Linked DNA regions of Homo sapiens: region 1 is linked to region 2. The links come from fine-mapping of genetic effects on gene expression. Tissue or cell type: blood mononuclear cells. Region 2 holds a variant in brackets; the other region holds the start of a gene. All regions are shown on one strand. Distances are between the middles of the regions. Region 1 holds the start of ASAH1 (N-acylsphingosine amidohydrolase 1). Region 2 overlaps ASAH1 (N-acylsphingosine amidohydrolase 1).

The links.
Region 1: it holds the start of ASAH1, and the variant in region 2 is fine-mapped to the expression of ASAH1 in blood mononuclear cells (TOPMed, PIP 0.99).

Annotation. Positions count from the first base shown.
Region 1 is chr8:18,076,578-18,092,460 of GRCh38, reverse strand. ASAH1 (N-acylsphingosine amidohydrolase 1) reads left to right here and starts at 8,354. Exons shown (of 14, transcript NM_177924.5): 1 at 8,354-8,480. The coding sequence starts at 8,403. It overlaps ASAH1-AS1 (ASAH1 antisense RNA 1), which reads right to left and starts at 7,593. Exons shown (of 5, transcript NR_125429.1): 1 at 7,522-7,593; 2 at 6,976-7,219; 3 at 5,525-5,578; 4 at 5,324-5,436. It also overlaps the pseudogene MRPS18CP3 and the pseudogene ABRAXAS1P2. RefSeq lists enhancers at 7,372-7,907, 7,708-7,987, 8,788-8,897 and a silencer at 8,238-8,437.
Region 2 is chr8:18,058,808-18,069,563 of GRCh38, reverse strand. It overlaps ASAH1 (N-acylsphingosine amidohydrolase 1), which reads left to right. Exons shown (of 14, transcript NM_177924.5): 5 at 2,266-2,344; 6 at 5,033-5,107; 7 at 6,334-6,379; 8 at 7,141-7,285; 9 at 7,824-7,878; 10 at 8,106-8,187; 11 at 9,861-9,992; 12 at 10,100-10,223; 13 at 10,673-10,729. Among named protein-coding and RNA genes, the nearest start is that of ASAH1, 20 kb to the left of the region's middle. The variant T/A (reference allele first, on the strand shown) is at 6,253.

The DNA.
Region 1 (15,883 bases), 20 kb before region 2:
CTGGGTGACAGAGCGAGACTCTGTCTCCAAGAAATAACAATAAAATAAAAATATAAATATAAATATACAAAATTAGTCAGGAGTGGTGGTGCATGTCTGTAATCTCAGCTACTCGGGAGGCTGAGGCAGGAGAATTGTTTGAACCTGGGAGGTGGAGGGTGCAGGTGCAGTGAGCCGAGATTGCACCACTGCGCTCCAGTCTGGGTGAGAGAACAAGACTCTGTCTCCAAAAACAAACAAACAAAGCAGTCAAGAGCAAAGATCATGGCAACATTTCTTTTTGATGCTCAAGGCATTTCGCTTGTTGATTTTCTGGAGGGCCAAAAAATGACAACATCTCCTTATTATTAGAGTATTTTGAGAAAGCCAAAGCCTTATCAGAAAAATGCCCAGGAGATTCACCAGAGAGTCCTTCTTCACCATGACAATGCTCCTGCCCATTCCTCTCATCAAACAAGGGCAATTTTGCAAGAGCTTCCACAGGAAATCTTTCTGACTTCTTTTTGTTTCCTAATCTTAAAAAATCTGTAAAGGGCACCCATTTTTCTTCAGTTAATAAAGACTGCATTGACATGGTTAAATTCCCAGGACCCTCTTTTTTTTAAGGATGGACTAAATGGCTGGTATCATCCCTGACAAAAGTGTCTTGACCTTGATGGTGCTTATGACAGGAGGCTGAGGCAGGAGAATGGCGTGAACCTGGGAGGGGGAGCTTGCAGTGAGCCGAGATTGCACCACTGCACTCCAGCCTGGGCGACAGAGGGAGACTCCATCTCACAAAAAAAAAAAAAAAAAGAAATAAAGTTTATACTTTTTATCCTTTAACTCCATCTTTGAACCTGGGAGGTGGAGGGTGCAGGTGAACGTTTTGAAGTCCCCTTGTATATATATTAGTGTTATATTCTTTTTCGGTTGCAAACTCCCTGAGATCTGGAATTTGTATTTCACTGCATGTGTATCTTCCATAGCACCTAGTAATCTGCTCTTCATTTAATGGTCATTTAGTACTTTCTATACACACATTATTACTATAATTGTTATTGTTGGCTTCTGTTGTCATTTCAGGGTGACTGTCATACTCCTCACCTTTCTGAGCTGGGAAACAGTTGAGAAATATACACAGGCGTTAGAAATATACACATATTAGATTCTGCTTTCTTGCTCATTAAGCTGAAATAGAGAAAACAATTTTGACCTGAGGCCAAAATGGAACTTCAACACCTTCTACTTTGGAATGAGCTTGTGTACTCAGTCTTTAGGCAAATGCAAATGACTTTTCAGGGGCACAGCCAATTTCTAACAGGAGGGGAGTGAGCTGAGGGCAGGGTGAGGATGGAGGCGCAGGGACCGGATGTGCAGGAGGTGCTTATAGGCGCTATTCCTTGACTGCCTTCTCTCTACATCTCTCAGAGCTCTCATTTTAGAGTGCTTTCTTCCAAATCTTCACAGCCATTACGTTATAACGTCATGATTTTAAAGTCTGTTGGTGACGTGCCACTTTGGGAAGATGTGGTCAAAGGCAGCAACTACTTTCACGTCCACTGTTGTCATTCAAGGCTTGCTGCAGTAGAATTACCAGTGTGGGCAGGCATATCTACTACTGTGGGGAGGCAGATCTGAATGAAAGCGCCAGAAGAGAGGCCAGGCCACGCACGTTCTGTGACCTTTTCAACTATTTACTGATTAGATACATCATACATCTCTCCTTCCCTAGGGAGACATGAATGGAGGAGACGGCAGAGAAAGGTGGACATTTTCTTCCAACAACATCTGATGCTAGATCCAGGTTTGGTGACACCTGAATCTTATGCAATTTAAGTGGTCCTCCTTAAGGAAAAGAATACAAAATTACAAGCATAAAATTTAGTAAAAGGTTGGGAAGGGGCATGAGCAAGTGAAGGTACTAAAACTTAAAGTTCATAGATTTGTTGTACATCCTTCTCAACAAAGGAGAAATGTCTATTTTCATGTGTGTATCAGTTAGGATGCTCTCAGATACAATAATTTAACTTGTAAGCAAACCAACTTGTCCAAGATTCAATAACAGAGTAGTGGCTGATGTAAATCAAGAGTCCAGTTGTTGGACAGGATCTGTGGTTGGTTGATCTAGCATCTTGACAATGTCATCAATGACCCAGTTTCTTTCCATCTTTCTACTGTGTAGTCCACAGTATCAATTTCATCTTAGGTGGCTCCCTTCAGGTTTATAGCATGCATGCCAGCAGCAATGGGGATTCCTAGCTTCCTCTTTCATATTAGAAGGGAGAAGACAAGGCCAAGCATGGTGGCTCACGCCTGTAACCCCAGCACTTTGGGAGGCTGAGGCGGGTGGATCACCTGAGGTCAGGAGTTCGAGACCAGCCTGGCTGACATGGTGAAACCTCGTCTCTACTAAAAATACAAAAAATTAGCTGGGCATGGTGGTGGGCGCCTGTAATCCCAGCTACTTGGGAGGCTGAGGCAGGAAAATTGCTTGAATCCGGGAGGCAGAGGTTGCAGTGAGCCAAGATCGGGCCACCTCACTCCAACTTGGGTGACAGAGCTAGACTCCATCTCAAAAAAAAAAAAAAAAGAATAGCATTACTGATTCCCAAATAGATGATGCTGAAGTTGTTTATACAATTGACATTCAGAAATATATTCCATGCTATCAGTTTTTTAGTTTTTATAATTCTTCAGGTGAAGTAAATAAGCAGGCACTGAGGAAAATATTATCAAATTCACAAAAAATGTGGTAGGTTGTTACAAATTCCATCGTCATTCAGATCAGATCATGACATTTAGAGAGAGGCTGCTTCACAAAAACTTGCAGGAGCATTTTTCAAACCAAGACCTGGTTTTTCTGCTATGAACACCAAGTATAATAACAGAAAGCCGCTCTACTCATCGACTGGAACATGCCTTATATAAACCTCGAAAAGGACTTTTTCACAGGGTACCTTCAGTGGTTGCCAATCTGGGCATGTCTGAACAACTAGGTTATAAAACTGTATCAGGTTCCTGTATGTCCACTGGTTTTAGCCGAGCAGTACAAACACACAGCTCTAAATTTTTTGAAGAAGATGGATCCTTAAAGGAGGTACATAAGATAAATGAAATGTATGCTTCATTGTAAGAGAAATTAAAGAGTATATGCAAAAAAGTGGAAGACAGTGAACAAGCAGTAGATAAACTAGTAAAGGATGTAAACAGATTAAAACGAGAAATTGAAAAAAGGAGATGAGCCCAGATTCCAGCAGAACGAGAGAAGAGCATCCAAAAAAGACCCTCAGGAGAACATTTTTCTTTGTCAAACATTATGGACCTTTTTTCCAGATTCTGAATTCTTCATGCATGTGTTATGTCTTTAAAAAAACAGACATGTTTCTAAAGGTAGCTCTAACAACCACCACCATCTCGATGTAGTAGACAATCTGACCTTAATGGTAGAAAACACTGACATTCCTGAAGCTAGTCCAGCTAGTACACCACAAATGGTTAAGCATAAAACCTTAGACTTAGCTGACAGATGGCAGTTCAAGAGATGACGGCGGACGGATCACGAGGTCAGGAGATCGAGACCATCCTGGCTAACACAGTGAAACCCCATCTCTAATACAAAAAAATTGGCTGGGCGCGGTGGCTCACGACTATAATCCCAGCACTTTGGGAGGCCAAGGTGGGCGGATCAGGAGGTCAGGAGACAGAGACCATCCTGGCTAACATGGTGAAACCCTGTCTCTATTAAAATACAAAAAATTAGCCCGGCGTGGTGGCAGGTGCCTGTAGTCCCAGCTGCTTGGGAGGCTGAGGCAGGAGAATGGTGTGAACCCAGAAGGCGGAGCTTGCAGTGAGCTGAGATCCTGCCACTGCACTCCAGCCTGGGCTACAGAGGAATACTTCGACTCAGGAGAAAAAAAAAAAAAAAAAAGAGTGTTCACGGCTGTTAGACACACAAGACAAACCATCTAAAACAGATACTGATAGTAGTAACCAATAAAAAAGCATCCAAAATGAGCAGCCCAGAAACAGATGAAGAGATTGAAAAGATGAAGGTTTTGGTGAATATTCACGGTCACCTACATTTTGATCCTTTTAACCTTAAAAGGAGATTTTTTTAATTTGGCTGATGGGTAAAGTCAAACATTTCCATTGTTTTTACTAGGTTGAGCTACTTGCAGTAATACAGGTAAGTTCATTTGTTTTTACTATATTCACCTCTTTGCAGTAATCCACAGATAAGTCTTAGTGCATTTATTTTACAAAGTACTTTTTCAAACATCAGATCCTTTTATTTCCAAACCTTTTTTCGCCTTTCAATAAGTTGTTGAGGGAAAGGCTTACACACATTCTTTAGAATTGGAAAAGTGAGGCCAGGCACAGTGGCTCACAGCTGTAATCCCAGCACTTAGGGAAGACAAGGCAGGAATGATTGAGGCCAGGAGTTAGAGACCAGCCTGGGCAACACAGTGAGACCCATCTCTATTAAAAAAAAAAAAAAAGTATTAGAAAAGCTAGAATAGCCTTATTTTCACAATGTGGAAAGAAATTTATATGAAATTTATCTGAGTCATTAAAATTATCCTTAGGTGATAATTTTTTAGAAGTACATTACAGCTAGTGTTGCCAGATAAAATGCTGGATCTCACGCAGTACCTTTGCAAAACATGATCTAAAATTTAAATTTGTCCTACATTTGTACTTGCTAAATCTGGCAGCCTTAATTATTACACAACTATAACGCAACACAAACAATAATCTCTCCCCTAGTTTAGAGTCCTTTGCACGAAATTTAGCAAATCCTTAATTTTGAGTACAGTACAAGCCTGGTAATCCAGTGTGTTTGGGATAGGCTGGTGGAACTCAGAACTGATACATATATACATACATGTCTATCACATTCACTGTCTATTAGGTGTAAATCATCTTTTTATGTAAAAGACACTACTGGTTTGAGGATAGAGTTGTCTAGGAATGTTTTGTCCTGCTGTGACAGCATCACTATGCATCCCAGTGTAACATTCCTACAAAGGGAAGATCTCTTAACCAGGCATACTTACATTTGCTAGTTAGAAAACCATTCTGAGCAGTTTTAACTCCATTCAGTTGAATGGTGTACTACATTGTATGAGCTATTTGTGGACCAGATATAAATGACTATCACCCAGAACCACTTTCATTCAACATATGTAAAATGTGATGAGTGTTAACATTTTAAATAAGCGATCTGCTTAATGAACACTGATTGGTATGAAGGGGAAGTGTCATTCTTTACCTCACTCCTGAAACACTTTTCTATCCAAAGGTTGGTTTGAGTCAGTATTGGCGTCATACAACCACTTACTATAAAATAAGTTTACTGGTGGTAATGTGATGGAATTTATTCCGGATATCTGATGTTATAAACTTTAGGGTCCCTGAAATATGCAGGATCCTTGTATGTAACTGGCATAAACCCTGTAAAGAGATAATTAAAGTTCTTGACAAAGCATAATGAGCAAAATTTCAGCTAGCTCAATACAGTTGTTGAGGTGCTCTTTCTTACCCATTGTTTGAGCTCTCTTAATTGCTTTTGTGATTTGTTTCTTCCCACAAAGACCTGTAAAATAAAAAGCTTCCTTATTCATAAAAAAGTCAATATTTAAAGTTAAAAAAATGTTTATTTCTCAAACTGAAACATTATTTCTCTATCTCTTGACCTTTTAGTACACGTTTTTGTATATTCGGTTTTACTAAATCAAGTCAAACCTGTTCCAGGTAATGTGATGTTATACATGATAGGTTTCATTTAGGGTGGGGTGGCTAAGTTGCAACCCTTTTAAATCAAGGCTCCACCTCAGGAACCTAGGAATGTTAGGTAGGAGATGAGGAAGTCCACAGCTTGCCAAGAACTTCAGCTATTCCATAAACAATCTGATTACATATCCCGACTCTTGCACACGAAACAGGTTATCCAAGTCTTAAACTTGATGCTTTTGTGCAGTATGAACCACCCTTTCCGTGGACATAATCATGCATTTGCACATTTAAATACCATTTTCTATGAACAGATCAGTATGCCAAAAACCACTGCAAAGTCTCCTACACACACCTTGCCTTGACTTTCTGTACATTTCTAGTATTAAAGAATGGTGTAGGCAAAATAAAGATATATGTGTAAGAAAAAAAAGACATGCATGAAATGGTTTAATTTTAGGGAACTAGATTTATATTTTATCTGAAAAGAGTATTAATAATATATAATAGACCTTTGAAAGTTAGACGCATAGTTCTGCGAAAGTGGTGCCTAAGAATAGTATGTCAATTGACAAATTTTTTCCATAAAGAATCTGATTTTGCTAGACTACCTAATCACCAATTAACATCCTCCAGTAGGGAAAAAAATATGCTTGGTGACATGTTTAAATCGCTCTCAAGAGTACTGAAGATGAATGATCTTCCAATCAAGTAGCTATTTGATTTAGTAATAACAACTAAAAGATGGGAATCCTCTTCTTCGCACACTCATTTTAAGCTCCAAGGTAATTCCATAGATTCAACATTTAACACGTATATTCAATATTACACATTTTTTTTCCGGAGTGAAATGGCTCTGAATGCCTTACAGAATTTGCCCTGCTCTCCTTAACTAAATACTTTGTCTATTAATACTTCTTTCTTCTTTTCCCCTTGTTCTTTCTGTGCCAGACCCACACACGTCTGCTGTAATTGAACATGCCAGGCACATTCTCCATTTAAAGCCTTTTAACAGCTGCTGTCTCTGCCTAGAATACTCTTACTTGGGCACACACAAAACTAGCTTCCTGGTCTCCCTCAACTGTCTGCTCAAACTTCACCTCCTTAATCATGTCTATCTGTCCCTCTTATTTAAAATTGTAACTCTACCACTTCTGATCTCCACACTTGATGCCCCTGGCCTCCCTTTTCCTCCACTGCATTTGTCACTAACATCCCGTATAATTTTCTTAGGTATTATGTTTATTGCCCATTTCTCACCGAGAACATACGCCTCAGGGTGGAAGAAGTTTGTCTTTTTGTTGTTGTTCACTGCTTATCCCCAGTGTCAGGAGACATGCTTGGCACATTGTAGGTCCGCAGTAAATATTTTTTGAATTAATAAAGAATATTTCTACCATCTGCTAGCTTACTGTTCATGCAGGAGCTCAAATGTGCTTTAAGCATGTGATATGTTTCAAAAGTCAAACTTCATCCTTAGGGAGAACACTGTCATCTTCTCCTCCTTTAAAAAAAAAAAATAGGAAAAAAAGCAAAACAAAACATCACCTTCTCATTTCCCCACCTCCAACAAAAAGAGTGTTGAGTTTTCTAAAGAAATAATACAAATGGATAAAACTGCAATTTGTTGTCCTTTCTCTCACATGCAAAAAGAAAAGAAAAAATACTGCCGAGATTTCGGCAGCGTGCTGAGCTTCATCAAAGCATTAAAACAATGCTGCTTGAGACGTCAGAGGCTCATCCAGGAAGTGCAACCCAGAGGGCAGGATTTCCTGCTGGACTTTGAAATCCAACCCGGTCACCTACCCGCGCGACTGTGTCCACGGATGGCACGAAAGCCAAGCGAGTCCCCCTGCCGAGCTACTCGCGTCCGCCTCCTCCCAAGCTGAGCTCTGCTCCGCCCACCTGAGTCCTTCGCCAGTTAGGAGGAAACACAGCCGCTTAATGAACTGCTGCATCGGGCTGGGAGAGAAAGCTCGCGGGTCCCACCGGGCCTCCTACCCAAGTCTCAGCGCGCTTTTCACCGAGGCCTCAATTCTGGGATTTGGCAGCTTTGCTGTGAAAGCCCAAGTGGGTAACCAACAGCTTGGAGGACCCGAGTGGATTCGATTCTCTCTCACTCCTCGGCCACTCAACTGCTCCTTGTCCCTGACTCCGCGGTGGGGATGAATAACTCAACTCATTTCGGGCCGCTTTTCTCAGAGGGCAAAGATGGGTCAGGGTGGGATGTTACATTAGTGTTGAGACTCTTTGGATCCGTTTCGTGGGTACCGAGGACGCCTGGGTACGCGGGACAGGCTGCACCCGCCTGCTAGAGGCGCCCCATCGAGGCGCCACGGGTGAAGCTCCCGGCCCCACCTACGGGGCGGGGCTCCGGCTCGGTCCGACTATTGCCCGCGGTGGGGGAGGGGGATGGATCACGCCACGCGCCAAAGGCGATCGCGACTCTCCTTCTGCAGGTAGCCTGGAAGGCTCTCTCTCTTTCTCTACGCCACCCTTTTCGTGGCACTGAAAAGCCCCGTCCTCTCCTCCCAGTCCCGCCTCCTCCGAGCGTTCCCCCTACTGCCTGGAATGGTGCGGTCCCAGGTCGCGGGTCACGCGGCGGAGGGGGCGTGGCCTGCCCCCGGCCCAGCCGGCTCTTCTTTGCCTCTGCTGGAGTCCGGGGAGTGGCGTTGGCTGCTAGAGCGATGCCGGGCCGGAGTTGCGTCGCCTTAGTCCTCCTGGCTGCCGCCGTCAGCTGTGCCGTCGCGCAGCACGCGCCGCCGGTGAGTGAGCTTGAGCCGAGGCGCAGAGAGGGGCGTGCAGGTGCGGGCGCGGATGGAGGCGCAGGTGTGGCGGCGCGAGCGGGTACAAGGAACACCTCGTGCTGGGCAGCTTCTTTACGGGGGTCTGTGGTTTCGTGCACAGGGGTGTGGGTGCAGAGCGGGCTGGCGAACCCCGTCCTCGGTAGATTCGGTGCTACCTGCAACTAGAACTCCTTTAAAGGAAATCCTAGTCTCTGCAGGATACCTGGGTGTGATTCGCACATTCTTAGATTTGAGTGAGTGTACTTGAATAACCAGTTCCAGGCCCTTGCATTTTGAAGTGTTTAAATAAAATGTTCCGGTGGACCTGTGTGCATTACTCAATCAAGGACAGACTGCCTGATGGTCAGGTGCTTTCTCCCGAAGAAGTTCAGGAGTTCAGCCCAGGATACTGCAGGGCCGTGGGAAACGCTGAGTGGTCCCAAGCTTGGGCGGTGCGAGCAGCCCAGAGCAGGCCCCAAAGGGCCCCCTGTGGCCTTTTGCACCCAAGTCATGGGATCGCCTGTCCCGTGGCTCTTTCCCACGAGCAAGTCACAGGGCTACGGACTTCCTAACTGCAAGAGACAGTGAGGGACGAGCGTGACTCTTTCATTTTACAGAAGAGGAAGTAGACCTAGAGTGAGAAAATATTTAGCCAGAGGTTACACTGTTGTTTACTGAACATGCGTAACGTCCGAGCCTCTTGACGCCCAGTACTCTTTCATAATTCATTTCTTTATAAAGCAATCAGACTGCGTTTGTCTTTGCCAACAGAATCGGATAAGTAGGAACCTGGCGCATCTGGCCTGAGGCTAGATGGTGATGGTCTTGAATAGTTTAGGTAGGTTATTGAAAGTGGAAGCAAGATGTGCATTGTCTTCTTTTATACCTGTAAGGAGAAATTCTTTAAAATCATGGTGGGATATGATTTAGCCATTAAAATTGATATAATGTTCAGCAGATAAAAGTAGAATCCAGAATAGTATATACAGTTTTTCCTGTAATAGGAAAATACACAGAACATGTATGTGGACACGATTAAAGGCCTTAAAATAAAATTGCTCCATTGTGGGTAGGGAATTAATTTGCTTGACGGTAGTTGGTTTTATGGGAATTGGGAGAGACTTTGATACTTTGATACTGTCAGGGCCCTTCATTGAAAGACCACCAGGAACACACCATAAGCTGAACAAATTGGGTTTAGTGTTCTTTGAGGCAAAGGAGACCACACACCATGAGCGACGGACGGTAGGTTATAGAAAAAAACCCATTACAGAATTTGAACTTCGGTTGCATGATTTGGGGTAAGACTGAGGAACCGGGCTTTGCTGTAGATAGAATGCTGTTAGAAGGTGGGGCAATTCTGACTGAGTAAAGAAGGAACAGCCATTCTGTTTAGCACGAGAAGGGGATGTTTGGTGTTTTGTGCGTTGCAGGTGCCCTTGTTTTTGTCTGTTCTTAGAGAAAATCTTCAAGTGGCATTGCTTTGTCTTGGTGTGTCATGTCTCAGAATAATCTTATCCGACGTAGGTATCTGTGGGATTGTTGATGTCCAGGAGGAAAACAGAGCTTACCTGGCTGTGAGTGTCAGATCGGCTTGTAATAATATTGAGAGATAGCTGTGGGACTCAGAGCAGTTTCAGGTGTTGGAGGCTGTTTTTTCTTCTTTCTCAATAGCTTTATTTATTCTAGCAAAAGTATTTTGATAGCTATTTTCAGAAGAAGAATTAACAACCTCTCAATGGATATAATAGTTCTTATCTAGAACAGCGATTATCAAAGTCTAGTCTGGCCACTGGTGTCACTTTGGGAAGCTGTTTTCACAGGTTTTCAATGAAACTGGAAAAATAAGAATGCAAAACTAAAATTATTAATTTAGAATGTTAATCTTTACTCTGATTGTATGGACTTCAAGTTTTCATTGTTGCAAACGTGTTCTTAAAAATAACGGCAGAGGTAGATGTTATGTGCATGGAATTTGTTTTGTTTTAACATCTCCATTTGGCAGAATAAAAATTTGGACCCTCCTGTGCCAAGGCCTCATTAATTTTTTTTTACTGGCCTGGAAAATCCTGGGATCCATGCACTGAAGGACCTTTAGAACCTTACAGAAGTTTAGTGACTTCATTCTCTGAGAAGAATAAGCAGTTTTTCAACTGGAGTCATTATATGATAAACTATAGCCTCATGGTAACAAAAGATATTTCAAAAGTACTTTCAATAAATATGAATAATGAGAAGCAGCTTTAAATTGGAAACAAGTCATTTGATTTAGAACATCTGTAAGGATTTTTTGTGTGTTTGTTTTTGAGGCTTTTCACAATATTCCTATGTGAAGGTCCTCCTGAGTTATTCTTCATTATTGAATTTTTTAGGAGTCTATTAAGAGATGATGGTGAAGACAGTGGCACAAGAAATGTCTGGAGAGATAGCGCCAGATGACATCATCCAGGGTTCTGTAGACTCTTATTAAGGATTCAGAAATTTATCCTAAAAAATGGGAGGATCTGGAACCAGCCAATGGGAGGCCATTAGATGGTTTTAGACAAGATAACATTTTCACTTTAAAAAGATGAGTCTGGATTGGAGGTCAGCAAGGGTAGATATGAGGAGACTAGTCCAGAAAAGAAAACAGGGTGCGTTGAAGGATGGTGGCGCCAGGGGTGAGGGAGAGAAGTAGATGTTCTAGAAAAAAATCAGGAGGGCGAATGAGCTGAAGGAATCGTTGGGTGAGGATGAGGGAGTGAGGTGTCAGCGTGACCTGCACATTGCTGAAGTGCTTCGCTGGGCGAATGGTGGCATCCGTTCCAGGAAACATGGGGAGGGGAAAGCTTGGGGGCTAAAGAATGAGGATCGTTTTCATTTGGGGTGTATGTTAAATTTCAGGTGGCAGAGAGGCATCCAGCAGGCCACTCGGACTGGCACTCAGAAGAGAGACACTGAGAGTCACTGGCATAATGATATTATATTTGAAGCCCTTGGAGCAGATGAACTTACCTAGAAATAGGATAGAGAAAGAGAAGAAAAGAGAACTAGGCAAAGGCTAAGTAACTTGCACATGTATGTGTCAAGAAGAGGAGAAATTGCCAAAGTTAAAACAGGACAGGCCGGGCGCGGTGGCTCATGCCTGTAATCCCAGCACTTTGGGAGGCCAAGGTGGGCAGATCACGTGAGGTCAGGAGTTTGAGACTAGCCTGGCCAACATGGAGAAACCCTGTCTCTACTAAAAATACAAAAATTAGCTGGGCATAGTGGCTCACGCCTGTAGTCCCAGCTACTCAGGAGGCTGAGGCGGGAGAATTGCTTGAACCTGGGAGGGAGAGGTTGCAGTGAGCCAAGATCCTGCCATTGCACTCCAGCCTGGACAATGAGCGAAACTTCGTCACAGAAAACAAAAACAAAAAAATAGGAGAGTAAGTGGAACAGGAAGCTCAGGGAAGAGACTGGGACAGGTTAACTATGTTGAATATTATTGAGATGTCAGTGGTATTATGATGTTGGGCAACTGGAGGTCATTGGTCACCTCGACTGGAGCAGTGTTGGGGGCAGAAAACAGCTTGCGGTAGGCTAAGTGTGATTGGCAGGAAAGGAACTAGAGGGGAGAGATGGCTGCTCTGCGTAATAAATCTGACCCACTTCATAAGATGTGCGAAGATGAAACGTAATGGCTTAGTAATTAATTGCCAAAGTAAACTTGTAAACTCATTTTTATGCATCAGCTTCTCATACTAGTTAACAGCGTATGTCAACATTGTTGACATTAGCTATTGAATCAGCTTTAGCAATGATTTTCACGCAGTTGCCAGAAATCTCATAGACCCCATCTGGCCTAGGAATTTATTGCACTTCATCTGCTTTTCCCTACTTCTCCCAAAGAGGGAACACACAGGTGTAATCCATTCACTTATTCAACAAATACTGCTTGCCTACTATGTGCCAGACTCCTAAACGCTGGGAATGCGTCAGCCAATGAGATAGATGAGGTCCTTCCTCTCATGGAGGGTTTATTCACATTCCTTTGACCTAAATATCAGTAGCTTAATAGGATGCCATCCCATCAAAGCCCAGAAGACAAGTGAAAACATTTTCAAGCTCATGTGAATTCTTGTACACGTAGGAAACATGCCTCTTTGTATTCAGTGTTTCTGCTGAGTTGTACATAAGAGGACATTATAGGAAAAACTTGTCTGCAAAATAGTTGTTGATGAATTCAAGAATTGAATGAATGAAAAATTGTCTGGCTAGAGTTGTTTGGCTTCTGGTGGGTATGAAAACTGACATGAGGTATGTAATTTTAGATTATCCTTCATTGTCTCTTTCTGAGTATTTCAATAAGACAAGCACACAAGGGCTTTCTGGACTTTTAAAATTCACTATTAGAAGCATACATTATTTCATTGAGGGTCTCCTAATTCTTTCGGGCTCAAATATTTTAAGGAGCTGTACAAGTTATGCCATTTTTTAAGGGTATGGCGCTTTCATTGAGACCTTAATGTTCTCTTTATATTTTTGTGTTTTTTTTAGAATGTTGTGTTCAGTAGCTCTGTAATTAATTTCTCTTAATGAATGGGGAGGACATTCAAAGAGGCTTAAGTTTCTATCAAATAACCAGAAAAATTAGAGAATTTTCTGACCCAAACAGTCTTTTAAAAGCACTTTCCAGAGAGTTTTTTGTTTTTTTTTTTTTTCTGAGATGGAGTCTTGCTCTGTCTCCCAGGCTGGAGTGCAGTCACACTATCTCGTCTCACTGCAACTTCCACCTCCCGGCTTCAGGCAATTCTCCTACCTCAGCCTTCCGAGTACCTAGGATTACAGGCACATGCCACCCAGCTAATTTTTGCATTGTTAGTAGTAACGGGGATTTCGCCATGTTGGCCAGGCTGGTCTTGAAGTCCTGACCTCAGGTGATCCACCCACCTCAGCCTCCCAAGGTGCTGGAATTACAGGCATGAGCCACCATGCCTGGCCCAGAGAGTTTCAAATGCATTGAAATATCAGATTTTTACCACTTATCTTCACTCTTAGGAGACCACTGAGGGGCAGGGAGAAAGGTAGGGAAGGGCAGGGAGAGAGAGAGAAAGAGAGGTACTGTGGGGAGAGGGTTAGAGAGAATTGATTCTAAGTTGGATTTTGTTTCCTGTGATAGGGTGTACATAGTATACCATCCAGACCACATAATCTCTCTTCTTATCATCTGTTTCTAATCTTTACCTATCATCTATTTAAGTTTTTACCTGCCTTAATAGAGTTGTCTGTTATTAAACTGTTTATAAACTTGGGGATAGTAAGGAACTTTAAATAACATTAAGTAAGTTCATTATAATTCTGTTTTAGGGCTACTCGTGGGTTTTGAAGCTGTGTCTCCCTGTAGAATTCTTTTTTGAGGGGGAGGAAGTAGCTCTTTTTTCCACCCTACCCCTAAAACTAACCTTTTTGCATAAACGACTTAGGCGTTCATGCCATGTGAGCCCCTGAAATACTGTAGTCTCATAGCTGCCAACTTTCTTATTTTCTGTCACACTTATCCTATTTCCTTGCAGCCAGGTTCTATGCCAATTTCACGTTTGTTTATTGCTACCAAGAGTCGTTATCAACCTCAGACTCACTCCACATGTATTGTTGCTAGCTTGCTCTTTAGTTCTTACCTCTGGGGCAGGTCACATTCTCTCCTAATACTAGACAGAGCATTTTCAACTTTGCTCACAGTTGTCTAGTAAGAAATGTGCCTGTAATTTGATGTTTATTTTGGCTTTGGAACCCAGGGCGTGCAAATGTCATTATTAGGAAGGGATAGGAGTCATTACGTTTCACTTAATTTGCCGAGTTGATTCTAGTGATCACCAGAAGCCCTGAACTACGCGCAGATTATTCTGTTAGGAATTAAATTGAGGCATTGGTTTTATTATCTCTGTGGGAAGCTGTTTGATAGAACAGGGAAAGCCATTGACTCTGATTCTGTCACCAGCTGTGTAACTTTCTACAAGTCACTAATGGAGCAGGGTCTTAAGTCCACAACATGATCATAAAATTAAGCACTTGGGTTAAGTACCCATCACAGTATTCCCAACTCATAGGAAAACAATGGTCAGATAAACAAGAAAATGTAAAGCGGAGTATCTCCTCACAGCAGAACTTATTTACAAATTTTACAAAGTAAAATTAAGTTGCAACCCCTATAAGTCTCTAAGTAGCTCATTTATTAGCAAAATAAGGAAAGCCATTTACCAATGGTGGATTACCTAAATTGTATTCGATTGTAGTAGCAGAAGTATTGTGTCCAGGGAAAATGAAATTATTTTACATGTCATTGAGAACCCTTGTCCTGGACTTTGGGAAGAACATCAATATCAATTAAAGAACAAAGCATGTGATTTTTGAGTGATTTTTCTTGACTGTCAACATACCGATAACTGATCAGTTGTTGATATTTATTAGATGATCATTGCCAAGTTTGAAGTGACTGAAGAGTTAGCCTCTGAATCATCTGTATAAAACAACTACAGGCGAGGATGTTTTCGAAGAAGCTGAGAAAATAATGATTGAGTATAACCTGGAATGGAATCTGCTAAGATCTATAAAAATTGACAGTAGTAAAAATATTTGTGAGTAGAAAAAGGCGGAGTTGAGCAAATTCACAAAACTTGTGAACATGCGAGGTGTTTAAAGCTCATGGTTATTTATTATAGTATTCCTTTTCAGATATTTTGTGGAAAATATTGGAATCTCACATGTGTTATTGAACCGGCAATATAAACCATGAGCTTCATTTGCTCTTGTGGATATAACCGTCATCATTTCTGTGAATTATCAGAAATAGAGGCCGGATATCCTGATGTCTCTTGTGACAGAGCCATTAGATAGCTTGCTAGCTGTAAAGTTTTGCAGTCTTTGAGTTCACAGTTGAGACTGAAGTTTTTCTAAACGAGCTGCCCCCAGCCACTATTACTGAACACGAATGGCTTTGGAAATTAGCTTTTGCTACAGACTTGATATTGTTTCTTAATGAATTCAACGCAAAATTACCAGACAAAGCCAGACATATGTGAGAAACTTACAGTGTGGTAAGGCAAATTTGACAGCTAATGTTTGAATCACAGGTAATGTCAACCTACTTTATATATTCCCCATGTTATCAAAAGTTAAAACAAGGTGCTAGACCTCCATTCTTACACAGCTGTCCAGCAGATACATTTTCTGTGCTCAAGCTACAGTTCCAGGAGTTTTCTGAGCTCAAGCTACAGTTCCAGGAGTTTTCTGAGCTCAAGCTACAGTTCCAAGAGTTTTCTGAGCTCAAGCTACAGTTCCAAGAGTTTTCTTACCTACTCTACTTTATCTTATTTTGGATTTGTACTTTTTTAAAACAATTATTTTACTTTCACAGAACT
Region 2 (10,756 bases):
TGGGCAAATAACCATATTTCATCTGGGAGTGTGGTATTTCCTTCCCTTTATGTAGTGAGTTCACTATTGAAGACTTGGTTTTTTTTCTTAAGTGTCTCAGGGACATCCAGAGATTTTTTTTTTGTAGATATGAGCAAATGACATACTCAGCCTGGCCCCTTATTCTGTAGAGTTCCTCAGTAGCTCTGACCCTGAAACTCATTTGGGCTGAGTGTTTCTGTGCAATCACCAAACCATTTCATTTTCATCCTCATCATGCAGGAAGACTCCATTTCTCAGCCCCGTTTTTGTTGACGCAGAACCAATGAAACACCTAGGGCCTGGCCCCTAGAACTGTTAAAGGGATCCTCATTGCTCTTGATGGCAGATTTTGGGCATTAATGACATTTGGGGTTGGGCAGCTTTTTTTTTTTTTTTTTTTTTGAGACCTCATCTCACTCTGTAGCCCAGGCTGGAGTGCACTGGCATGATCATAGCTCACAGCTGCCTTGATCTCCCAGGCTCAAGGGATCCTTCTGCCTCAGCCTCCTGAGTAGCTGGGACTACAGTCACGTGCCGCCACACCCAGCTACTTTTCTGAATTTTTAGTAGAGACGGAGGCTTGCTGTGTCACCCAGGCTGGTCTCCCAACTCCTGGGCTCAGGCGATCTTCCCGCCTCAACCTCCCAAAGTGTTCTCCCAAAGTGTTGGGATCGTAGGTGTGAACCGCCATGCCCGGCCTGGGTTGGATATTTCTTTGTCGTGGGCTTGTCTACATTCCAGGATGCCCGGCCTGGGGTGGGTGTCTCTTTTTTGTGGGGCTGTCATGTGCATTGCAGGATGTTTAGCAGCTCAGGATGCCCGGCCTGGGGTGGGTGTCTCTTTTTTGTGGGGCTGTCATGTGCATTGCAGGATGTTTAGCAGTGTCCCTGGCCCTTACCCACTGGATGCTGGTAACACCCCCTCAGTTGTGACAACCAAAAATGTCCTTAGATGTTACCAAATCTCCCGTGGTCGAGAATCATTGCCCTAGCGGCTGAGTGCTGTGGCCACATCCTCCCTATGACACTTGTACCTGCCAAGCACCAAACCCATTATCCCTCACGTGCATGCTCTCGGAGCTTTTGTTTCAGGCTATCCTTTATGTTCATACTTACCGGACTTCCTCAAAACAAAAAAATGCTGGCAGGAGCAAAAGAGGATGAGGCCCCCACGTTCCCCGTATGCCTTAATCTCCCCTCTACTCTGAATGTTATCAGGGAGGGCAACATTGCAGAGAGTTTTTGTGCCACGCCTTGGAATCGGACAATACTGGGTTTTAAGGCTGGATCAGTCACATACTAGCCTTGTGTCCTAGGGAAAGTTTCTTAACCTATGAAACCTCAGTTTTCTCATCAGGGAGAATAATAATTACTAATATATATTTCATATGGTGGTTGTAAGGGTTAAATGACATACTGTGTATAAAGCATAGTGCTTGGATGTAATAAGTGTTTAATAAATACCCATTACGTCACATTTGTTTGTTAAATGGCTGGAACATTCCACTTGGGGAATGCTTTGAGTTCCTAGGGAGAAAAAAAATATGTTTAGGTGACATTACATGTAATTACCAAGTTGGTTAAAAAAGTGAGATTCGTGAATTTTAAGCAGATTATCTCAGCAAAAGGCCGTGAACTTAAGTTGTGATCTGGATGTTAGTAGTTGCCATTGAGAATAAATATATGATGTCCACCACTGAATTTGCTCAATGTCTCTGGTTTGCTAAAAGAATGCAGTTACTTCATCTTAGCTGAAGATCAGCCATTAACCATGACACAGGGCTATGGATAGAATAGTGCAGGTTTATCTCTGTGAGTGTGGGAAGGAAATGGTAAGAACGGTATATGCCAGTGGCTAGAGGGTGAATTCGTGCAGAGAGATAAGGAGTGCTTGTTATGATGTTTTTGTGGTGTGGGTCAGGTTAGGTCATCCAAGTGGAATTACTCTCGTTCCTGCCTTCTCTGGAGAATGATGGAAAAATAAGGCAGGAAAAACAATCTGAGAATCTGGTCTCTGTATAGGGGCCCAATATTCAGTATTACATAGAATCTTTTTATAACTACATGATGTAAAAATGCTTTAAAAAATAATTCCTATCACTTATTATGATAGCAGTATCTAGAAAAAATTATATGTCCAAGAACTAGATTTCAAAGCATGCTTTTATTATATTTGTTTATATTATATTATATATTTTTTATTGTTATTATGTTAAATGCTTTTATTAATATATTTGTTTTCCAGCCTGGCCTACTTGGCAACTTTCCTGGCCCTTTTGAAGAGGAAATGAAGGGTATTGCCGCTGTTACTGATATACCTTTAGGTAAAGTTCACTTAGAAGCTTTAAAAAAAAAAGTAATTAAATTCTTTTACAAGTTTCCATTGAGGTGTGATATACATACAGCACAGGTGCTGTATGTCTTAGATATACAGCACAGGTGCACAGGTCTTAGATATACAGCTCAGTGAAGCTTCAGAAATGCATGCATGCATGTAGCCATGACTCAGATCAAGATACGGAAGAGCCCAGCACTCCACGATGCTCCATCATGCCCCTTTGCAGAAAATACTGCCTCCTCCAGTAAACACTATTCTGATGTCACTATAGATTAGTTTTGCCTCTTCGTGAACTTTGTATAAATAGAACTGAACAATATGAACTGTCCTGTGTGATTTCTTGTATTTCATTATGGGTGGTGTGCTATTGTATCAACAGGGTATTTGGGTGGTTTTCAGATTTGTGATATTAACAATAAAGGAATTATAAATATTGTAGTACATTTTGGGGGTGTCTGGGTACTCATTTTCTGGATATATACCTAGGAAGTGAACTGTTGTGTTATAGAGTAATTGTGTGTTTAGCCTTATAGATTCTGCCAAACAGTTTTCCAAAGTGATTCCAGCAGTTGACAATCAGCAGAGTATGAGAGTTTCAGTTTTCTCCTCTTGATAATTCTCCTCTCGATAGTGTCAGTCTTTTTTTTTCCTTTTTTTTTGTTAGTGTCAATCTTTATTTGAGCCTTTTTGTTGAGTGTCGCAGTATCGCATTTTAGTTTCAATTTGCATTTCCTTGATGATTAATGAGATTGAACAGTTTATTGACTTTTTTTTTTTTTTTTTGGTTTTCTTTGTTTCTTTTGGAGAAGGGCTTGTGAAGGTCTTTTGCCCTTTTAAAAATTAGATTGAAGGAATTTTTTACATACTTTGAATATAAGCCCTTTGTCAGATATATGGATTCTGAATATCTGCTCCCAGTCTATGACCTTCATTTTTATTCTCTTACTTTTGTCTTTTGATGAACAGAAATTTTTAATTTTAGTGAAGTCTAATATCTCAGTCTTCTCTTTTATGAGTAGTGCCTTTTGTATCCATTTAAGGAATCTTGGCCTACCCCAAAGTCATATATATATGCTTATATATTTTCTTCTAGATGTTTAATGTTTACTTTTTACATTTAGGCCTATCATCTATTTTGAATTATTTTTGTATATGCTATGACTTATGGGTCAAGCTTCAGGTTTTTCTCATGTGGTATATCCAGTTAGTTAAACAGCATCAATTCAAAAGGCTATCCTTTCCTCAGCAAATTGCAGTGGTGTCTTTGATATAAATATACAATACATATATATATACACACACACACACACACACACACACACAATGTGTATCTGTATATACAATCAGGTGATTGTATATATGTTGTTTTGTTTGGGGAATTAAGTTTCATTTACATATTTGTCTTTTTGTCTTCCCTTATATCAATACTATTTCACCTCAGTTACTAAAGCTTTATAGTAAGTCTTCAAATTAGGTGGTATAATTCTTCCAACTTTGTTTTTCTCAATATTTATTTAAGTTACTGATTTCTCTGAGCAGTATCTTTTATTTTCAGGGAGAAGACCTCACATGCCATTCGTTAAAATTATTCTTAGATATTGATGGTTTGGGAAGCTATTTTTAAAATTTCAATTTAAGCTTTATGGCATGTAACGAAAAATATTTTCCCCACGACCCCAAAAGTTTTATCTTTAAGCTAGCAAAGCAGTAGTGTCATTATTTTAAATAGCCAACAGTACCTTCATTTTATGAGATGATTGAGAATTTGTGAAAATCAGTAGTATTTATCAACAAAAGTGGCTAGTTTTGTGTGCTGCTTCTTTAAAAAACTCATTTAAAAGATAGCATACTGGAAATATGTACTTGCTGCCTTTATGGAAAGCAAGTCTAATTCCTTTATTATGTAAAGAACTCTAGCAACTCAATACCAAATAGAAATACCTTATGGATTAAGAAGAATAACATGATGTATAAGTGGTGTAAATTTATATAATTATTATAAATTATTATAAATGTATAATAAAATAACTAGAATTTCACCAAATTAGAAATTTAATGGAAATAAAATACACATTGGATTTGGGTGAAAAAAACATGTTGAGCTTAACATGTTAATGTTAAATGGGACAGAAATACAATGTGCTGCCTACTTTTGAATTAAATGCTAAATAGCAGTATTATACATTTTGGGAAAATATTCAAAAAATAAAATACCCTAGAATGGAGTTTCTTGGCAGCTCTGTACTAATTTTAATAGTTCTTGAATCTCCTTTTTCACCTTAGAAATTTTAGTCACACTTTAAAAATCTGGGCAAAATATATGTCCAGCAAACAGCCAAGAGCCAGATGTATTAAATGATCATATTTACGCTCCCAAAAGAAAATTCAAAATGAAGCATGTTGATAAACATTTTGGATGTGATGTTGGAGAACAATTGCAACCTGCCCAGATGTTCAGCTCGCCCGAAGGCTGCCTCCTTGGTGACTTGTTTCATCTTGAGTCTAGAGAGTCCAGGCTGGGGAAGAAAACCACCTCCAGCCGGCCGTTCCAGCACAGCCCCACTGGCCAAAGCACACACTCACACAATGAAAACACTGAAACTTTTTCTTAAAACAAATTTTTCTCCCATTGTCATGGTTCTGTATATTAACACAAAATTTTCTTTTCTCATAGGAGAGATTATTTCATTCAATATTTTTTATGAATTATTTACCATTTGTACTTCAATAGTAGCAGAAGACAAAAAAGGTAATTGTGCGCTGAGGGAGGGTGGGCAGCATGAAGCACTACATAAAGAAAAATCTTCTAAATGAAATTAGAACTTCTGAAATTTGGGCTTGCTATGTAAATTCTGTGTATGTTGCATACAGCTTTTTATTTCTTGGTAAAATTTTGTGATTGTACTGAAAATTTTCCTTATTTTCAGACTACTGTACTGCCTATTAAAGTTGATTTCAGACATGCAAAAAACCTGGAAGAAATGTTGCAGGGCTAGAAACATTCTTCTCTTCCTCATAGTTTACTTCTACCCATCTACATGCTTTGATGGAAGTGCTCGCAGGAGGTGCTTCCTTATCTTCGTGTATGTCATGACATCTGTCCTTTTCTTGAGGCCCAGAACACACATTCTCCCATCCTTTCCCAGCCAGGCAACCCAATGGATACCAGCCTCACTTTCCCGTATTTTTCCTGACTGGTTCCCAGAGTACAAAGCACAGGACAACTTCGCTAACTCACCCTGATCTTTGACCTATACTCTGGGTATAAATCTGCCTGTACCTTACCCTTGAGATGTCCTGCTCTAGGGGATGATGCCTGAAGGGAAACATTTGATGAATCACAGTAATTGAGGCTCCGATTTCTGTGTCCTGGTAGAACCATGTGATAGTGAACCAAAACATGACCATTGATTCCTTTTCCCATATTCTGATCTTACCTGGAAACCCGTGCTCTCAGATTTTGTGGGGTTATCTGGCAGATAGACGGTGACAACAGTCCCATCTGGTGAAGGCTTAGGATATTAGGATGTTTCTTACTTCTTATTGTTTGAAGAAACAGTTGTGAATAAAAATTAATCAAAATTAGAGGCCAGGCACAGTGGCTTACACCTGTAATGCCAGCACTTTGCGAGGCCGAGGCGGGCGAATCATCTGAGGTTGGGAGTTTGACACCAGACTGGCCAACATGGTAAAACCCCTTCTCTACTAAAAGAAAAATACAAAAAAAAAAAAAAAGTAGCCAGGTGCGGTCGCACATGTCTGTAATCCCAACTACGTGGAAGGCTGAGGCACAAGAATTGCTTGAACCTGGGAGGCAGAGGTCGCAGTGAGCTGAGATCGCACCACTGCACTCCAGTCTGGCCAACAGAACGAGACTCTGTCTCAAAAATAAAT[T/A]AATTAATCAAAATTAATTGTCCAGCTTTGATTTAGAATCTTAACTGCTATTACACGTCTCTTCTGTCTACCTTCAAATAGGTCATCTAATACATGGGAGAAACATGGATTTTGGAGTATTTCTTGGGTAAGTAAAGAACAAAGGGTCAGGCATGGTGGTTCACGCCTGTAATCCCAGCTTTTTGGGAGGCTGACACGGGTGGATCACGAGGTCAGGAGTTCAAGACCAGCCTGGCCAAGATGGTGAAACCCCGTCTCTACTAAAAACATAAAAATTAGCCAGGCATGGTGGTGGGCATCTGTAATCCCGGCTACTTGGGAGCCTGAGGCAGAGACTTTTTTGAACCTGCGAGGCGGAGGTTGCAGTGAGCCGAGATCGCGCCACTGCACTGCAGCTTGGGATACAGAGCCAGACTCCATCTCAAAAAAAAAAAAAAAAAAAAGAACACAGAACTGTTTTGGTCTGTAGGAAGAGTAGGTTGTGTTATATTGATGATAAGTAAGTCCCAAGTCACACCCAAAATGTGATCATAAGTGAAGATAAATGGATTGCTTGAGTGCTGAGACAAGAGGGACATGCTCTTCTATTTTATGTGTCCATCTTGACCTTTCTGAAAAAATAAGAATATTGTAATTAGCATTCTATGTTTGAATCTGAGGCTCACTATTTATAAGCTGTGTGATATTGAGAGAGTTACCTGACTTCTCTGAACCTCAATTTTATCATTTGGAAAACAGAATAAATATACCATATTGTAAAGGTCTTGTTAGGATTGATCGTGGTGACTCGGTAAATAAAGCTCCTAGTGTAATGCCTGGCCCTCATCATCATGTTGATCATTACTATCACTGTGTTTCTGAAATGTCACTGAAACATGTCTTTTATAGGTGGAACATAAATAATGATACCTGGGTCATAACTGAGCAACTAAAACCTTTAACAGTGAATTTGGATTTCCAAAGAAACAACAAAACTGTCTTCAAGGCTTCAAGCTTTGCTGGCTATGTGGGCATGTTAACAGGATTCAAACCAGTAAGGAGTCTGTTGTTACATAATTATACAGGTAGCCTTCTGTCCTGTTACCGTTATGTAAAAGTTGAAATCTAAGAATATGAGGACCTAAAGGGAATATGAAGCCCCATTTCACCCCCTTGTACTTCTTGTCACTTCATAGGTATGAGATCTCGTGGTAGAGAAGAGTAGAAAGGAAACGGAGGTTTCTGAGCCTCTTCTGGGATAAAGAGCATGTGGCTGGGTGTCAAGGGCTGGGAGTCACAATCTGATTTCTAGTCCTGGGTCTTCCGCTCACTTAGGCAAGTCAGGCGTTCATTCTCTGCCCTTCAGTTTCCTGTCCAAAAAGCGTTGCCAGTGATACCCCACCTACTTATCTCACATACTAGAATCAAAAATGCTTTGAACTTTTTAAAAAGCCTTTTATGGTTTTGATTTATTTTTGCCTTCCCCATTACCCAAGCTAGGCCTTTATATCCCACTCTGAAGTACAGTGAGCGACAGGGCCTTAAAGCGCATGGTTGATGTTTCTGACTTCGTTGCTTTGTCTTTTTCTCAGGGACTGTTCAGTCTTACACTGAATGAACGTTTCAGTATAAATGGTGGTTATCTGGGTAAGTAGAGCATTCTCAAGTGAAATGGGAATCTCAGAGCTTTTTTATGAGGAAGGCTGGACTGTGCCTTCTGGTTACAAAGTCCAACCTCTTCCGGTTCCCGACTGGTTACAAAGTCTAACCTCTTCTGGTTCCTGACTGGTTATATAGTCCAGCCTCTTCCGGGTCCTGACTGGTTACATAGTGTCACCTCTTCCGGTTCCTGACATTGTGTTCATCTCTTCCAGGTATTCTAGAATGGATTCTGGGAAAGAAAGATGTCATGTGGATAGGGTTCCTCACTAGAACAGTTCTGGAAAATAGCACAAGGTAAAGTGTTTCGTTGCTTTACTATTAAATATTTATTTTAAATTACTCATATTAAAAAATAAAAATATTTGTCAAGCTCCAGCTTAATCCTTTGAGGAACTATTGCAGAATTTCTTAGGTGAACCTCTGACACTCATGTGGAATTACTCATGTTTTCTTCGTGCAGACTGTGTGTTTTATAGCAAATAAATGAATTACTTAAAAAGCACTAGGGATACTGACATTATGAAAGGCACCTATGAATATTTTTGGTGTACAGAAAAAAAATGACCCACACACAAAAGAACAGTCATACAGTAAAATCTTCATTTAAATGGTAGTACAGACCAGGCACAGTGGCTTATGCCTGTAATCCTCACGCTTTGGGTGGCTGAGATAGACAGATGACTTGCACCCAGGGGTTTGAGACCAGTCTGAGCAACATGGCGAAACCCCGTCTCTATAAAAAATACAAAAATTAGCCAGGCATGGTGACACGTGCCTGCCTGTAGTCCCAGCTACTCAGGAGGCTGAGGTGGGAGGATCACCTGAGCCCAAGGAGGTCGAGACTGCAGTGAGCTGGGATCAGTCCACTGCACTTCACCCTGAGTGATAGAGTGAGACTCTGTCTTAAAAAAACAAAATAAATAAATACAAAATGTACTACATATTAACCTGTAAGTTATATCTTGCCTTGGTATAGAAATCTTACAATAGCAAAACTGCCTTTCCTTCATTCAGCCAGCACTGCGTCCAAATAAATGGGCATCAATCCTATTTTTAATACTTCCCAGGGAATAAGATTTAATGTTAGTAGTGTTCTTTGATAACCCACTTCAATTTTTAATAGTCCTAATTTTCAAGAAGGTTTACTTTCTGTTCTCTAAGTCCTACATACTGTAATATTATTTCCCTTTGTTCTGTTGTTGAGTGAAAGGCATGGACAGTAAGGGTGGAAGATGATCTCTTGAGGCCACTTTGTTTCTCCTTCAGATTAGAGGGGCTTCCTAAGATTCCCGCTTCCCATCTCAGTGTTCACCATACAGGGTCAGGGATTGCTTTTCCCAGAGGCATTGCTCACCATCCTTTTTTAGAAAACACATTGTGGCTGGCCATGGTGGCTCATGCCTGTAATCCCAGTACTTTGGGAGGCGAAGGCAAGAGTATCGCTTGTGCCAAGGAGTTCGAGACCAGCCTGGGCAACAGAGTGAGAGCCCATCTCTAAAAATAGAAATAAATAAATAACACATTCCTTAGATACTTGTTTTTCTTTAGTTTCTACAGAGCTAAACATTTCCGTTCTAAGTCATCTAAAAATGTTTCCCACCATCATCCTCAGCAAACTAACACAGGAACAGAAAACCGAACACTGCATGTTCTCACTCATAAGTGAGAGCTGAACAAAGAGAACACGTGAACACAGGGAGGGGAACATCACGCACCAGGGCCTGTCAGGGGGTGGGGTGAAAGGGGAGGGAGAGCATTAGGACAAATACCTAATGCATGTAGGGCTTGAAACTTAGATGATGGGTTGATGGGTGCAGCAAACCACCATGGCACGTGTGTACCTATGTAACAAACCTGCACGTTCAGCACATGTGTCCCAGAACTTAAAGTAAAATTTAAAAATAAATGAAGTTATTTACTAAAATTAAAAAAAAGTTTCATTTTTCTTTTTAAATGTTTCTATATAGTTATGAAGAAGCCAAGAATTTATTGACCAAGACCAAGATATTGGCCCCAGCCTACTTTATCCTGGGAGGCAACCAGTCTGGGGAAGGTTGTGTGATTACACGAGACAGAAAGGAATCATTGGATGTATATGAGTAAGTAGGTTTGTTAAAGCAAAAGAAGTAGAAACAAAAGCATACACTGATATACTTTGAGTTTTAAGGCATGTAGCCTAAGAGGGAATCTCTCCTTTTGTATCTAGACTCGATGCTAAGCAGGGTAGATGGTATGTGGTACAAACAAATTATGACCGTTGGAAACATCCCTTCTTCCTTGATGATCGCAGAACGCCTGCAAAGATGTGTCTGAACCGCACCAGCCAAGAGGTACCTTTGCAGGGTCATCTATAGAAAGAAACTGTTGCCATTAAAGATTCCCTTGGTTCTGGCATTTTTCTTTGGCCTTCAAGTAATTTATAAACGTCCTATTTTTCATAGTATCTCTAGCCACTCTCCACTGATTTTTTTGTTTCGTTTTCTTAACTTAAAGAGCAAAATTGTGCTGTACTTTCCTTTTCTGGTTCTAATGCTGGATACCACTCTGAAGTTGAATAACAAACAGGCAAGAATTTAAAAAAGGGGAAGGAGAGAGAGGAAAGTAATCCATTAAAACTGTTACCTGTGTTTCTAACAGTGACTCCCACAGAAACTCCACTGCGGGGATGGAGGGGAGGTTGATTAAAGAATGTCTTGGTTTCTGGTGGCCCATGTGTGTAGATAAGGCTGTTGGCTTCTGTATTTAACTTACTGAACAAAACTATTTTCTTGTGTTTTAGAATATCTCATTTGAAACCATGTATGATGTCCTGTCAACAAAACCTGTCCTCAACAAGGTATTTTAAATGTTATATGTATATTTG